Homo sapiens: one gene and its partner. The protein of the gene in region 2 interacts with the protein of the main gene of each other region in a pairwise test. Each region holds a gene or a part of one and is shown on either strand. Other genes may lie near its edges. The genes, in order: HIPK3 and TGFB1I1.

Region 1 (3,817 bases), on a different chromosome or scaffold from region 2:
GAGTTGGAGGCTGCAGTGAGCTATGATTGTGCCACTGCACTGCAGACTAGGCGAGACCTTGTTAAAAGAAGAAAGGGTAGATGTGCAGAAAAACATTAAGAGAACATAATGCAAAGTTCCTGTATCTGGCTTCTCAGCTTATTTTTACACTTGATCATTTGTATTAGGATTTTACCATTAGGGAAATTCCAAGATAATTTTGTGCAAGTAGAAAACATGGAGTATTACTTAAAGTGATGATTCTGTCAAATGGTGGTTTTGACGTACACGTTTATATATTGTTGTGGCAGACCAAGTAGATGGAAGGCAGATCTAACACCTGTGTAATTATCAGTTTTTCTAGCTATGGTACTGAGGATTCATTCTTATGTGTGTATATGTTTTGAGTTCCTATAGATAGGTCAGCAGTTGCTAGGTTGATTTCATATTTTATAAATTCTAATTTGGTAAAATAAGGTCATAGGGGAGAATATTAAATATGCCAGAATAAAACTGGATCCTCTTTCATATCTATGTTATATCTGAATCAAATAATGTTTATAAAATCATTATACATTTAATGGTTGTGTGGTAAGAATGTTGGCTATTTCAGCCTCAATAAACTCACATCCTTTTTGGATGCAGGCATAAAATAAATAGAATGTCATTTAGTCCTTGAGAACCTTAGAATGATTTTAAATCTGTTTTTCAAATATGATTTGAAATTTGATTTGAAAATATGATTTGAAAATTTCAAATATTTTCCAATATATTTGGAGGAAGTTTAAAGGAATATCCATATAATAAAGTACACATTGAGAAGAATGGGAACATGAATATAACTGGGTAGAAAGTCATTAACTTGTCTTTGTAATATAATGCTTTTTAAGATCAAAGGATAATATTTTTAGTAAATAGAATGTAGCATCAGCTATTCATGAAATTGGCACCCTAATTTTATTTAAAATCCCTGCCATAGGTGGGGCATAGCGAAACTCTGTCTCAAAAAAAAAAAATATATATATATATATATAGTTAAAGCAGACATAGATTTTTTTTCCTCCTGAGGCAATTCTTGGGCTTTAGGTTTAAGAAATATGGCTATAAACTATGTTTATATAATGTATATTTTCTTTTCTTGTCATTGGTTCATACATTTGAATTTGGTAATAGAATGTTTTACTTTTGTCAAATGTGTACAGTTAAAGGATCTGTACTTTTTTTTTGAGACAGAGTCTTGCTCTGTCTCACAGGCTGAAGTGCAGTGGTGCAATCTCGGCTCACTGCAACCTCCACCTCCCAGGTTCAAGCGATTCTCCTCCCTCAGCCTCCCGAGTAGCTGGGACCACAGGCATGCACCACCATCCCCAGCTAATTTTTGCATTATTAGTAGAGTTGGGATTTCTTCACCGTGTTGGCCAGGCTGGTCTTGGACTCCTGACCTCAAGTGATCCAACTGCCTCAGCCTCTCAAAGTGCTAGGATTACAGGGATCTATACTTTTCTTTTGAGGGAAAATGTTGGCACCGTTTCTAGGGCATATTGGCCATTTCAGCTTCTCAGTAAATATTTGTTAAGTAATTAAATGCACTTGATTCTTTATTCTTAGCCTTTTAACGCAATACTCAGAATAGCTGAAGCACCAATTAACTGAAATGGAGATATTATAAAGATAGTTATCTTCTCCAAGGGAAAAAATCATCTTCATGGAAATTAATTACTTTTTTACAAATTGTGAATTTGACCCTTAAGAGTTTTCTTCCTGATATTTAAAATTGAAAAAAAAATTGTTGACATTAATATTTCTTCTTTCCTTTTTTTTCTTTTCCTTTTTTTTTTTTTTTTTGCAGGTATGGCCTCACAAGTCTTGGTCTACCCACCATATGTTTATCAAACTCAGTCAAGTGCCTTTTGTAGTGTGAAGAAACTCAAAGTAGAGCCAAGCAGTTGTGTATTCCAGGAAAGAAACTATCCACGGACCTATGTGAATGGTAGAAACTTTGGAAATTCTCATCCTCCCACTAAGGGTAGTGCTTTTCAGACAAAGATACCATTTAATAGACCTCGAGGACACAACTTTTCATTGCAGACAAGTGCTGTTGTTTTGAAAAACACTGCAGGTGCTACAAAGGTCATAGCAGCTCAGGCACAGCAAGCTCACGTGCAGGCACCTCAGATTGGGGCGTGGCGAAACAGATTGCATTTCCTAGAAGGCCCCCAGCGATGTGGATTGAAGCGCAAGAGTGAGGAGTTGGATAATCATAGCAGCGCAATGCAGATTGTCGATGAATTGTCCATACTTCCTGCAATGTTGCAAACCAACATGGGAAATCCAGTGACAGTTGTGACAGCTACCACAGGATCAAAACAGAATTGTACCACTGGAGAAGGTGACTATCAGTTAGTACAGCATGAAGTCTTATGCTCCATGAAAAATACTTACGAAGTCCTTGATTTTCTTGGTCGAGGCACGTTTGGCCAGGTAGTTAAATGCTGGAAAAGAGGGACAAATGAAATTGTAGCAATCAAAATTTTGAAGAATCATCCTTCTTATGCCCGTCAAGGTCAAATAGAAGTGAGCATATTAGCAAGGCTCAGTACTGAAAATGCTGATGAATATAACTTTGTACGAGCTTATGAATGCTTTCAGCACCGTAACCATACTTGTTTAGTCTTTGAGATGCTGGAACAAAACTTGTATGACTTTCTGAAACAAAATAAATTTAGTCCCCTGCCACTAAAAGTGATTCGGCCCATTCTTCAACAAGTGGCCACTGCACTGAAAAAATTGAAAAGTCTTGGTTTAATTCATGCTGATCTCAAGCCAGAGAATATTATGTTGGTGGATCCTGTTCGGCAGCCTTACAGGGTTAAAGTAATAGACTTTGGGTCGGCCAGTCATGTATCAAAGACTGTTTGTTCAACATATCTACAATCTCGGTACTACAGGTAGGTAACAACTCCATACTTTTTGGTTGTTTATTAATGTGAAATTTCTGCTAAATGAAATACTTTTGTGTGTGTTTGTGGTAGAAGAGACCACTTCAGTTAAATAAGGAAATCAAGAGAGGATCAATTTAGGTTCGTTTTAAAGAGATTAAAAAAAATCAAGACATAAAATCTACCCAAGCAGGATAGAAATCTCCACTGCAAAGTTCCATGCCAAAGACATCTGGTTATTTTTATTTTTAATGGAAGACTTGAAGGAATGATAGGTGATTAATAATGATCAAACAGAAGTCTTTAAATGTTGGAAAGTATTTACATTAATCTTTGTATATATCATTGGGCATTTTAGCACTTGAGAGAAATAGTTTATTAAAGATATAATCAATCATATGTAACTGAACATTTAGAAAAATTATATACAGGTTTGAGTAGCCCTTATCTGAAACTTTTGGGGCCAGAAGTGTTTTGGATTCCAGATTTTTCCGGATTTTGGAATATTTGCACTGCCAACTAGTTAAGCACCCCCAAATTTGAAAATTCGTTTCCTTTGAGTGTCATGTCAATGCCCAAAAAGTTTCAGATATTTGGATTTGAGATGCTCAACCTGTATAAGGATTCAGAAAGTTATTCTGATTAATGATTTTAAGATTCAGATATACAGCCGGGTGCAGTGGCTCATGCCTGTAATCCCTGCACTTAGGGAGGCTGAGGCGGGTGGATGACCTGAGGTTAGGAGTTCAAGACCAGCCTGGCCAACATGGCGAAACCCCCATCTCTACTAAAAATAACAAAAATTAGCTGGGTGTGGTGGTGGGTGTCTATAATCCCAGCAACTTGGGAGGCTGAGGCAGGAGAATCACTTGAACCCAGGAGATGGAGGTTGCAGTGAG
Region 2 (3,624 bases):
GTAGGGTGAAAATTCCAACCATGTTACCATTTATTGTGGTCCTACTGTGTGCCAGGCACTGTGCCAGCTCCTTTACAAACCCTCATCTCATCTGATCTTCACAAAACACTCTGTGGCTCCACCCAATATCTCTCAGGCATCTACAAAGGCTCTCTCTTCCTCCGTCAGAGTCTGGACTGGGTTCACTGGTCCTTGTTTTATTGACTGAGCAGATGTGATTGACAACAGCTGTGCCTAGGGGTTAACCTAGTGCCCCCTGCTAGATCAAGTACCTGACTCCCAGCCCAGAATTGCCCATCTCAGCAAAGGAGGGTGGCATTGTGACTTTTGTGGATCATAGGCACTTTCATCTTCATGAGTCCCTTCGTCCATTAAAATAAATAGATTTTTATGTCTGTGTTGGTGTAAAGATGGGTATGTTATTATTGTGTATTACAGCATTTTCTTCTAGTTCATTTTTTTATTCTGAATTTTTAAAAACGGATTTTTCACTTCCTCCCTCTTATTTATTTTGAGGCAAATTCTCACTCTTGTGACCCAAGCTGGAGTGCAGTGGTGCGATTGTGGCTCACTGCAGCCTCGACCTTCTGGGCTCAAGTGATCCTCCCAGCTCAGCCTCCCGAGTAGCTGGGACTAAAGGCGCCCGCCACCTCGCCCAGCTAATTTTATTTATTTATTGTAGAGATGGGGCTTCGCCATGTTGCCCAGGCTGGTCTCAAACTCCTGGACTCAAGTAATCCTCCCACCTCAGCCTCCCAAATGCTAGGATTAGAGGCACGAGCCACCCAGCCTGATCGTATTTTGATTTTAAAAAAATTAAAACGTTTTTATGGGCCCCTAAATGTATTGTGGGCTCCAGGCGCTGTGCCTGCTGTGCCTCATGTATAGGTCAATCCTGGAGCGCAGCTGGAAGACGGAACACGGGAGCTAGATCTCCATCGCTTACAGGCTGCGTGATCTCGAACACTGGATTCTTTATTCTGATCGCTCAGAGAGGACTCGAAAAACGCCGCGTAAATCTTGCCTCACTGGGCATGTGGTTGTCAGAGCCGCTCTGACCCGCCTCACCTCCCACTCGCAGGTGGTGACGGCTCTGGGCCGCGCCTGGCACCCCGAGCACTTCGTTTGCGGAGGCTGTTCCACCGCCCTGGGAGGCAGCAGCTTCTTCGAGAAGGATGGAGCCCCCTTCTGCCCCGAGTGCTACTTTGAGCGCTTCTCGCCAAGATGTGGCTTCTGCAACCAGCCCATCCGACACGTGAGCCCCGCCCGGCCGCACCGAGCCCGCCCTATCTCACCAGGAGAGCTGTGGGACGGGCCTCCACCGCATGGGTCCCGCCCCACCCGCGATACCCCACTCCACCCCTACCCCTTCCCCTTGGCAATGTCCACGGCCCCTTGGACTCCACTCTTCCTTTCTGACCCCCACGTTCCTAGTTAGATCTTCTCCCCCTCCCCCCACGCATGCCTTAGTCCAGTCACCCGGGTTCCGCGCGGGAGAGGAAGGCGCGAAGGCACGGAGGCCGCGCTGAGTGCCCTCTCCCTCCCTGCAGAAGATGGTGACCGCCTTGGGCACTCACTGGCACCCAGAGCATTTCTGCTGCGTCAGTTGCGGGGAGCCCTTCGGAGATGAGGGTGAGAGTGAACTCGACTCCCATCTTAAAAGCTGCGGGTCCCCTCGACGTCTCGCCCCAGCCCCTCCGACCTCCGGAGTCCTCAGGGCCATGGTTTTCCTTCTGCTCTCTTCTGGCCCTGCCCTCTCCTACACAGACTCCGGACCCGAGCCCTCCCCGCTCTGTCCCGCCATAGACCCGGCTCCTCCTTCCCCAAGGCTCCCTCGGACTGCCCCTCCTTCGGCCCCAGATCTCAGGTCTTGTGGGTCCCCCGTCCCGCCCGCACCCTTTGCTTTCAGCCCACTCGGTTCCCTCTCCTAGGTTTCCACGAGCGCGAGGGCCGCCCCTACTGCCGCCGGGACTTCCTGCAGCTGTTCGCCCCGCGCTGCCAGGGCTGCCAGGGCCCCATCCTGGATAACTACATCTCGGCGCTCAGCGCGCTCTGGCACCCGGACTGTTTCGTCTGCAGGGTGCGAGCTGCGGGGCGGGGCGTTGGAGGGGCGGGTCAAGGGTACAGGGCTGTGGGGCGGGGCCTTGGAGGGGCGGGTCAAGGGTGCAGGGCAGGGGGCGGGCCCTCGGGGGGGCGGGTCACGGGAGGTGCTGCTAGGAACCTCGGGTGGGGCGAGTTTTCCGGGCAGGGTCCCACCGGACGGGATTCTTCGCGTCTAGGGCGGGCTGCGGGGTCCCAGGGCGTTATCCGCTAGTAACGCGCGTTGTCTGGCAGTGGCCGCTGACCTGTCTGTCCTCTTTCGCGGCTTCCCTTCCCCAGGAATGCTTCGCGCCCTTCTCGGGAGGCAGCTTTTTCGAGCACGAGGGCCGCCCGTTGTGCGAGAACCACTTCCACGCACGACGCGGCTCGCTGTGCGCCACGTGTGGCCTCCCTGTGACCGGCCGCTGCGTGTCGGCCCTGGGTCGCCGCTTCCACCCGGACCACTTCACATGCACCTTCTGCCTGCGCCCGCTCACCAAGGGGTCCTTCCAGGAGCGCGCCGGCAAGCCCTACTGCCAGCCCTGCTTCCTGAAGCTCTTCGGCTGACAGCCCGCTCGGCTCGCCCTCTCCCCCGGAGGCCGCGCCCTCCCGGAAAAGCCGGGTCCTCCAGACCCCGAGGCCTTGCTCTCAGAGCGGGAGGCCCCACCCACTGGAGAGCCCCGCCCCTAAGGTACTATGAGTCCTCAGGGGTCAAGTTCAGAAACGGCCCAGCCAGACCTAAACCCACACGCCCACAAAGTGGATTGCACACAGACAAGAACTCCCGTGCGGGCCTCCACTCTATTCCCACCCTTGAGGGAGCCCCCTTACTGGGGGAGGGTCCTTGCAATTCCAGCGAATCGGAGGCCAGGCCAGGACGTCCTTGCTCCCTGCACCCTCACTGTTCTGTGCACTTTTTCTACCTACATAAACACACGCATTCCACCTCTCCCTGGTGCTGTCTCTGAATGCGCGCAGGAGCTTGGCCCTGACTCCCCACCCCCGCGCTGGCTCTGTCCCCGGCCGTCTCTAGGTCACTGCCCTGTGGCCGCAGCGGGACCTGCAGCCTCAGCCCTTGCAGGTAGCCACTCCTGCACTTCCTACTTCAAGTATCAGATGAGCCTGAGGCTGGAAAGTGTGGCGACTCGCGCAGGACTGTACAGATAGTGGCAGAGCCAGGACAAGAGCTCCAACTGGGGCCCCACCGAATATTCCCGCCCTCATTACTCTTTCTTCAGTTCTATATTTTGTTTTGTTTTGTTTTGTCCTAAGAGATGAGGTCTCACTTTGTCGCCCAGGCTGGAGTACAGTGGTGCCATAGCTCACTGCAACCTCGAACTCCTGGTCTTGAGCGATCCTCCCGCCTTGGCCTCCCAAAGTACTGGGATTGCAGGTGTGAGCCACTGTGCCCGCCCTTCCCTTTATTCTTGAAATAAGCGCTTACAGTGGTTCATGCCTGTAATCCTGGCACTGTGGGAGGCCAGGGCGGGTGAATCACTTGAGGCCAGGAGTTTGAGACCAGCCTGGCCAACATGGGGAAACCCC

Evidence for each region.
Region 1: the proteins of TGFB1I1 (region 2) and HIPK3 interact in a two-hybrid assay, tested with the Homo sapiens proteins (one large-scale study listed by BioGRID and IntAct).

Annotation. Positions count from the first base shown.
Region 1 is NC_000011.10:33,284,585-33,288,401, forward strand, and holds part of HIPK3 (homeodomain-interacting protein kinase 3), read left to right. Parts: intron 1-1,828; coding exon of another isoform or gene 1,829-1,830; coding exon 1,831-2,927; intron 2,928-3,817. UniProt on the Homo sapiens protein: Serine/threonine-protein kinase involved in transcription regulation, apoptosis and steroidogenic gene expression. Phosphorylates JUN and RUNX2. Seems to negatively regulate apoptosis by promoting FADD phosphorylation.
Region 2 is NC_000016.10:31,474,931-31,478,554, forward strand, and holds the end of TGFB1I1 (transforming growth factor beta-1-induced transcript 1 protein), read left to right. Parts: intron 1-1,081; coding exon 1,082-1,255; intron 1,256-1,550; coding exon 1,551-1,632; intron 1,633-1,931; coding exon 1,932-2,080; intron 2,081-2,379; coding exon 2,380-2,646; 3' UTR 2,647-3,028; downstream 3,029-3,624. UniProt on the Homo sapiens protein: Functions as a molecular adapter coordinating multiple protein-protein interactions at the focal adhesion complex and in the nucleus. Links various intracellular signaling modules to plasma membrane receptors and regulates the Wnt and TGFB signaling pathways.